Linked DNA regions of Homo sapiens: region 1 is linked to region 2. A link means that fine-mapping ties the variant in region 2 to the expression of a gene that starts in the linked region. Tissue or cell type: whole blood. Region 2 holds a variant in brackets; the other region holds the start of a gene. Each region is shown on its reference strand, or each on the opposite one. Region 1 holds the start of HEMGN (hemogen). Region 2 overlaps SERTAD2 (SERTA domain containing 2).

What was found. PIP is the estimated chance that this variant, and not a neighbour inherited with it, causes the effect.
Region 1: it holds the start of HEMGN, and the variant in region 2 is the best candidate, but not a certain one, in a credible set for the expression of HEMGN in whole blood (TOPMed, PIP 0.61).

The regions. Positions count from the first base shown.
Region 1 is chr9:97,936,021-97,940,422 of GRCh38, reverse strand. It overlaps HEMGN (hemogen), which reads left to right and starts at 2,251. Exons shown (of 4, transcript NM_197978.3): 1 at 2,251-2,365; 2 at 4,159-4,252. The coding sequence starts at 2,287.
Region 2 is chr2:64,630,430-64,634,789 of GRCh38, reverse strand. It overlaps SERTAD2 (SERTA domain containing 2), which reads left to right. Exons shown (of 2, transcript NM_014755.3): 2 at 1-3,169. Among named protein-coding and RNA genes, the nearest start is that of SERTAD2-AS1, 4.3 kb to the left of the region's middle. The variant TTTGAAG/G (reference allele first, on the strand shown) is at 1,889.

The DNA.
Region 1 (4,402 bases), not on the chromosome of region 2:
TTTACTGTTAACTTGAAACCCCACCCTCTTACAGTCCCTCCACACTCTGCTTCTAGATACAGGGAACATGGGGCAGGGGTGGAATTGACTTAGGTAGGTTGTAGCAGGATATAAAGAATCTATTATTTCCTTGCAATACAGATGTACACACTTTCTCCTCTATGAGCCTACAGGGCACAGGGCTCAGGAACTGCACCATCCGTCTCTACAGCACAAGAGGGGGCATTAAGTAAAATTTGCTGAATTGTTGAACTGGGTGTTACAAGCTCTTAGTAAGGACAATTTTATTCAAGAAGTACCTCTGCATCCACTGAAGGTGTCCCAGAGGGATTCTATAATGTTATTTTATTAAACTATCCTAATGTAAGAAACAACCTAACTAATAAGAATTAAAACATATCAACTAAAGGGACCAATATTTAAAAAAACACTATTTTGTAATTTTTAAAGTTAGTTTGAGTTATTTAAACCCCATATCTGAAAATCCAAAATTTTCAAGCAAATAATGCCTGCTGTTCCGTGCAGGATTCCTTTGAGCAGGGGCTCCCTGAAGTTACCTGAACTTTTAGATACAGAGATTTACTTAAGAGAAGGACTGGGGAACTGAGAGAGGTAAAGCTAAATATTAGGGTTTAGTAATTAAAAACCAAGTTAAATTTTAGTGGCAGATACTTGGGTGTTTGTTATATCATTCTCGATACCCTTTAGTGTGTTTGACAGCTTGTTTCTCTAATATATTTACATGATACACACATTTTTATACCCAGGAAAGATCAAGCACACAAAATGATGACCCATCTCCTAATCTGTAAGAGATGCTGCTGGCAATAAGTAATAAAATACTAAGTATAGGTAACTCTCCTCCTCGGTTCTCAGTTTCTTTGTATACAAAATAGGCAGGGACTAGATGATTTTGGGCTCTTCCAGTTCTAATGCCTTAAGACTCCATGGAAGTAGTGGGTATCTATTCACATTACAAAGGTCTTTCTTTATAAAGAATCCTCTTCAGATTCTCTCTTTAGTGCATTTAAACTATGACTTGCTTTACCAAAATCTGGTTACTGTATTTTTATTGGTAGCTAACATTTACTGACCAAGTTCAATATGCTAGGCACACATAAAATGCCTCATATGGATTACTGGACTTAATCATCCCAGTAACTTTCTGAGGTAGATACCAATATTGTCCCCATGTTATAGATAGGTAAATTGACTCCAAGGCTATCTAACCTGCCTCAGGTCACTGAATTAGGGAATGTCAACACTGGAATTCAAACTCACTTCAATTCAATCTGAATCCAGAACACATATATTAATCCTGCATCTCCCAGACTGGCTTCCTGTATCAGGAGGTGCTCAGGGTTTCTTCTTTAGTTGAACCATAGTAGTCTGTGGCTCCTTGTCTTCACAAATGGGGTTACTGCTTGGAGATAGGATGGTTCCTTTGATTATTTCAACTTAATTTCTGGGATATAATGTGGTGATATTTTCATTAAGAAGTAATTTTTCACCTTCCCCTATATGAGTAACAATGGATTTCACTAGTTATCTTGAGTCACTTGCGAATGATTTGGTGAGCCAAAAAGGGTACAAAATTGCTGTGAAATTCTAATTTGGTTCTTTATGTCTATTTCTTAACTAAGTCTAACAGCATACACAGCAAAACTGTACATTATTTTGCAACAGATTAAGGTGAAAAAAGCTACATACAGGAAACCATGTAAGATTAATATATATCACACTTTCTAGAAACTTTTATATCTATTATTTTCACTTTCACAAGAACCGTATGAAGTAGGCAAGACAGGAATTATTTACCCATTTTGCAAATGCAGAGAGTCATAGAAAAGGGAGGTGACTTGCCCTGGGCCACTGAGCTGGTTGGGGCCTAGATTGTGTTCTTTCTACACTAGGCTACCTCCATCTGTAAAAAGGAACATCGGATCCAGACACTTCCTGGCAGATAGAACCAAAAGAGTGCTGACTAGAGGCTGTGCCATGCCAGGCTGTGGTCAGAGAGTTTCCCTGTATAAATAGCAACCTATGCTAGGGGTTGCTAGCACCAGCCATTTCCCCTACTCACACCTGTGCAGTGTGATAAAGATAGTAGAATTAGCCTGCAGTTGTGGTCCAACCAGATAAAACTTTTAGGCGGGAAGTCAAGTGACAGGCAAACTTGTGTGTGTGGTTTTTTTTTTTAAGTGTTAGATGTTTTTGATATTTTAAAAAAGCATCTAGGCTGCTTGTGGAAGTCAGACCAAAATAGCAGGAAGGTATTGCAGCAAGATGGATTTGGGAAAGGACCAATCTCATTTGAAGCACCATCAGACACCTGACCCTCATCAAGAAGAGAACCATTCTCCAGGTAATGAAAAATACCTTAAGAGCTGGTGGCTGTTGAGAAGAATTCGGGGTATGATAATTTTCTCTTTTCAATGGATCTGGCCAAAAAAAAAAAAAAAGGAAATAAATGAAAGCTAATGAGACTAGTTCATCCAATAATTTCATTCGATGGCTGTGGTAAAACAAGTGGATTCATACATTTCTATGGCAGCACAAATTTGGTCTAACGTTTGGAAAGAGATCTGGCAATAAGTGGTGAGAGCTATAATACTGCTTATTCTTTTGACTCACTAATCTCAGTCCTTGGATCTATCCTAAAGCAACATTTCTCAAAATGTTTTGTGGAAACTTAGGCCTTGAGATACCTTAAGACATTGTTTTAAATTTTTTTTGCTACATGGATCTCTTTGGCATTCTGATGAACCCAGAGACTCCTTCTTTGAATAAAATTTTTAAAGGCATAAAATTAAATATATAAGACTAGAAAGGGAATAATTACATTAAGATACAAATATCAAAATAAAAAATTATTATATAGTAATATATATGATTATTTATAGATTACAATATCCAGTGGTGGGTCTAATAATAGTATCAAGTCAAATAAGTCATAGCCAGTAGGTGATATTTTAAGGTATCTGCAACAACTATAATGTGATAAAAAAATATGTGATTTCTTTATAGGGACCAAGTCATATGCTGAGGGGGAGGGAGAGCATCAGGAAGAATAGATAATAGATGCTGGGCTTAATACCTAGGTGATGGGATGATCTGCACAGCAAACCACCATGGCACATGTATACCTATGTAACAAACCTGCATATCCTGCACATGAACCCCTGAACTTAAAATAAAAGTTGAAAAAAAAGTCATATACTGCCAAAACTACTGTGGTTTGTTATCTACATTCATAATTGAAGGAACTGTCAATTTTAATTAGAGGTTGGTAAAAATAAAGATATAATTTTTCCTATTAAGAACCCTTATCCCAAGAACAAGAGGCACCATGGTTCAAGGGGCATGCTCTATTCTTTAGAGGTCCCAGTGTGGATTTGTATCACTTCACAGGCTCTAGGAAGCTCTGCATCAAAGACTCATCAATTTTTCTCAACCTTAGACAGCAGCAGAAACTTTTTTGATCAAACCCTTAATTTTCCAAAGAACTTGAAAAAACACCGTTCTAAGGAAAAAATACCAAAGAAAAGCTATATGCAATGAATATGCTTATTATAATTTGATATACAAGGCAAAGATAACTAGCAACAATCTAAATGCTCAATCCAAGAGGAATGATTGGGTAAATGAGAGTACATCAACTAGACTATGTATCACATTGTCATTAAAATTATCATTATGAAGACTACGTCATGGAAAATAGTTCTAATATAACGCTAGCTTAATAAAAAGATTAAAATTGTGGTATGCTATTCTTACAACTTTGTGTAATATAAAGACTGGATAGAAGTGAGGAATAAAATGAAAACAAGTTATCATGTTAAAGACAGCAAAATATGGCTACTTTTTTCATTATTTGTACAATATATAAAATTACTTTGAAGAAATTAATAGGTTGGTAGCACACTTATGTACAAATACTATGTAGGAGTAGGTCTCTGACCTTTTCATTCAAAAACATTTGCTGAATGTCTGCTTCCAGGCTTTCTCTGGAGATACAAGGATAAATGAGATGCAGTCCTTGTCCTCAAAAAGCTAGGAGAAAAACCTAGAACAGAGACTCTGCCACTTGGCTACAGGACTTTTGCTGATAGACACCACAGTTCATCACTTTTTCTAATCACTTTCATTTTATTACAGAAGTCATTGGAACCTGGAGTTTGAGAAACAGAGAACTACTTAGAAAAAGAAAAGCTGAAGTGCATGAAAAGGAAACATCACAATGGCTATTTGGGTATGGTAGCATCACAAGGGAAAGGGAACTAATATATTTATTGAGGATGTTATGCATAAAGTAGTGCTGTGCACTTTACACACTGTATTTTATCTTTCCAACAATCCTGTAAATCAGACATGGTTATCCCTATTTTACAGAAAAACAGAG
Region 2 (4,360 bases):
TTTACATCCGAACAAAATTTTACATCCGAAAAGCAACCAACTTCTTCATGGAACTCAGCCCTGTTGCAATGCTTAGGGCCCTTAAAGAAGAAAATCTCCCCAGAAGGCATCCATCATGTTGCTTAATTGTCTTCTGCAGCTTCCTTTCCCTAGAGCTTTCCCTGTGTTGCTAAGAGCTGAAAATGGCATCTTCGTGATCACCACAGTGAGCTTGGCTCGCCTCGGCCGGCCCGGGATGCACTCTTACAACATGTGTGACTCTTGAACCTGGAGTTCATCACATTACGTCACAGCTTCCCATCTGGTTGCTTTCCTGAGTCAGCTACTTCACACTTGTCAAGGCTGTTTTACCCCAAAACTCAGACAGGACTTTCTATGCATGTTTTCCCTCCTCCCCCCAATTCCCCCCCCCATCACCTTATCTCCCAGGACACACTTGAGAAGTAGCTTTTTATTCCTAGTGGTGTACATTTAATTTTAAAAAGGTTGCAATGTATCATGCTTGTTGCCGAAACTGTTTATGGCCTTCTTGTTTCAGTTTTTTCTTTTCTTCCAATGGTACTTTAGCTGTTGAGTGCAGGTTACAACCTATATTGTTATGCAGATGGCTTCTTTAGGAATAACTTTTATATTTATTTAAAAATTTTTAAATTATGGGATGTTTTGTTGTTGTTGTTGTCTTTGTTGTTGGTCATTTGTCAATATTCAGTCACCAATTCTGCTCACTTCTTGCCATGGATAAAATTGGGTCTTTCTGGCTAATTAAAAAAGACAACTTTATAAAATGGCACTTTAAGCAAGCCATAGTTAGTTTTATTTTTGTAATGCACATGGCAAAGCAAAGACGTTTGTGATGAAGGAACTGCTCATCTAAGCAAAAGATTTGAGTATGATATGATAAAGGCTTTCTACATTCTAATTTACTTTTTCCCCCCACTTGAATGTGTTTTAAAGGCTAATTATCAGCTCAGTAGAGCAGTGAGAAACTGATCAAATTGCACTTGTTCTCCTACAAGCAACCTCCACGCAGACACCTCGTACTGCTACAGGTGTGTCATTTCCTTTAATAGGACCAGGGACCATGTAACTGAGGTGAGGGTTGTAGTAGATGCTTCCAGTGTCAGTATGCCTGTTAATTTTAAGAGCTTCCCTTTCTTGCAGAGAACAAGTCTGCCCAGATTCCATGCTTTCTATAACTGGAGGACCTGGCAAACCTGCCGCATGCTGCACACATCTACCTACGTACACATATACAATAGTATTGATGATTCTGAACAATAACAGGGTAAAACAGTTGGTTTGCCATTGTTAAAAACTGATTTACAGTAACTTACAACAACTGTACTTTTGTTGGATTAGCAAATCATGTGTTTAAACAAATCCCATATGTTGGGCAACAGTTCAAATAAGCACGGAGAAGTGTTGCCCAAACTTGGTTCTCTGACTCTTATGTATTTGTAAGGCTGGGCTTCAAAATCAAAACAAAAACCCCAAAAACAGCAGGCAAATGCTTTTTAACTCTGACACCGTTGCCATAAATCCCTGATACTCAAAGTCTAACAAGAAAGACATGGAAAATTAGCAGCCCATTTTCAGAAAGATCAAAATGATCTAGGGTTCTAATTGCTTTTGCATCCTATTCTTACAAAGTGATGTCCCAACAGGGAACAGTAGGAGCTGGAGTGGGATCTCCAAGTCCCAGTTTGAGTGTGGGATGTGCTTCCAGCAGTGCCTTCCCTTTATGAAAGACATCACATGGCATCCAGGGCCAGGCAGGCAGCTTGAGGTGCCTTTACGAGAAAACCGAGCTGGGGCTGGGAGAGGACAGTTATTGACACTGATGTGCAATGAAGTGACAAGATGAGAGCAGAATCGTAAGAGCTTTGAA[TTTGAAG/G]TGAGTTTTTTTCCCCCCATAAGTTATTTATTCCTTTTTTCTGTGTAAATATATTTATTTTACTGTGGAGCGCTAACATCTGGATCGTAACATGTGCAGAATGTATGGTAGGAATGTATTCTCTTGTAGGAATGTAAATCTGTATTAAAAGGGGGTCCAAGCCAGGCCCCCAGGTCTTCTCATTGTATGCACAGTCCGCATTCATTTTTACTCTTCTCTAATATGGGTCTATTTGAAATATGCAAAAGGTATGAGGAATGTTTTAATACCTCCAAATTTTTAAGAAAAGCATCAAAGGGTTGATATTTTTTAAAGTTTTTTTAGTAGCACTTTCTCTGGATGACAGAAGGAGCAACCACATGGGCACCCTTGTTCATACCAAAGGGTGAGCAGTGGCCAGAGCCTCCTCTGCACCTCTCGAGTGTCTTTACCAATTGAGCTTTTTATCGCCATAGCCCCTTGGAGTGCCCCAGCTGCCCTGAGGTCAATCAAGGAAAATTTCTTAATGAAATAAGCTCCAAAGAGCCAAAGTATCAACTTACAGATCGTTTTTAAAGCTTAAATTTATGAACCACCTTTGTGGTAAACAATGAATTATGAATACCGCAGGGCAGCCTTCTTAAATGACAAATGTAAAAAAAAAAAAAAAAAAGACTCTACTTCGTGCAGCAATTGCTACTCTATACGAATTGTCTTAATTTGAAAACCTTGCTGTTACAAATTGGACCTTTATACATTTTCTGAAAACAATGAAAAGAGTATATTTAACCTTTTCTGGCTGTAAATGGTTACCTTCCTGTAACTGCCCCGCACCTGGAGGCATGGAGTTGTGTGCATCCTGCTTATGTACAATTGTTTTCAGTGTTTCTAAGAATGAGTCTGAATGGTTCTTGAAAATTAGCCAGGATCAAATGCTATTGCAGACAAAGCCAATAAAAAGTTGGACTTCTTTTGGGGATAACAAGTTTTGGAAGAGAAATGCAGGCCATATGTGCGCATGACCGAGATTTTGAAAAAAGATGTACATAGTGACATGTTTGGTGCATGGTTTTTGAGGAGGGCTTTTGTCAAAAAGGAGGTATAACCTTTCCCCCACAGACCTGAGAGCTGTGCCTTTTCTATGCAATATTACAGACGTTACATCGGAACCCAGATGGCTGTATTCACATGTAGGTTTGGGCTGTAATCTAAACAATTGGACAGATTAAATGTACATGGAAATGAGCAGTCTTACTTTTGTAGTTTTATATTATACAATAAACAGTTAAAAGATGAGAGAGGCATGCTTGCAGTTTTCTTTTGATGGGAGCTCAATCAGCTTATTTGTGACAGTTTGCTCACATTAAGCAAAGTCCAGCAAGAGAGAGCAGCAGGGGGGCCCCGAAGGAGTGCGTGCTGTTGGTCTTCCTGAACCGTCCTGGTCTCAGGAACCACCCTTCTCTCCTGGTTCTCCTCCTGCTTCTTGGACCCTTCTGGACCTCCTTTTTCTCACATCTGTGCCCCAGCTCTCTTTAAAACATTGTCTTTTCCAGGGTTTGGCCCATGACTGCACTTCACTGAGCCTCCATTCCTGCTGCCTCTTGCTTTCCCAAGGTGATCTAATCCACTCAGGACTCTCAAAACTGGTCTCCAGCCCCTGCCTCTCTCCTGAGCTCCAGACTTCAGTATCTACCAAGATTTGCTCCCTCACTCTCAGCGCGTCTAAAGAGCTCTCGTTTCCCCTGGGGGCTGATTCTTCTGTGGGCTCGTTGTCTTCAGCACTCTGCTCCACGCTTGGCTCAGTTGCCCACCCTTGCACCCTGTTCCGCAGTCCCAGCCATGTCATTCCCTCTGCCACCACCTCTCCATCCTCACCATAGCGTCCCCAGCTCGGACCCTTTCTCTCTCCTTGCCTCTGACCGCCGTACCTGTTTCCTGACTAGTCTTCCTGCTGTGATCGTCTCTCTACCATCCCTGATGCTGGAGTTGACATTCTAAAATGCCAGTGGGTCACGTGGTTGTTGCACGTCCTCCAGGTGTACCCACTGATTATACCATCTGGACCCTGCCCCTGCTGTCTTCCAGTGGGGAGTGGGGGAGACCCTGTGCAACCTCCTTGGCCACTGGGCTGTCTTGGATGGAGTCATGGGATCTGGCCTCACCTGGCCTAGGCAGTTTTTTATTTTGGTGTGGTTGGGCCACCACACCACTGGCAAGGGAAAAGGGATGGATGTGTGAGACCTGGGAAGTGAAGGTTCAGCTCAATCAGCAGTGGAATGTGAGGTGGGGTGTGAAGTGCTGGGGAGGTGTTAGGGGCTGAATTGTTTCCCCCAAAAAGGTAGGTTTCAGTACCTCAGAATGTGACTTTAATTTGGAAGTGGGGTCTTTATAGAGGTAATTAGGTTAAAATGAGGTTATTAGTGTGGGCCCTAATTCAGTGGCTAATGTCCTTATAAAAAGATATTTGAACACATACATGCATACATG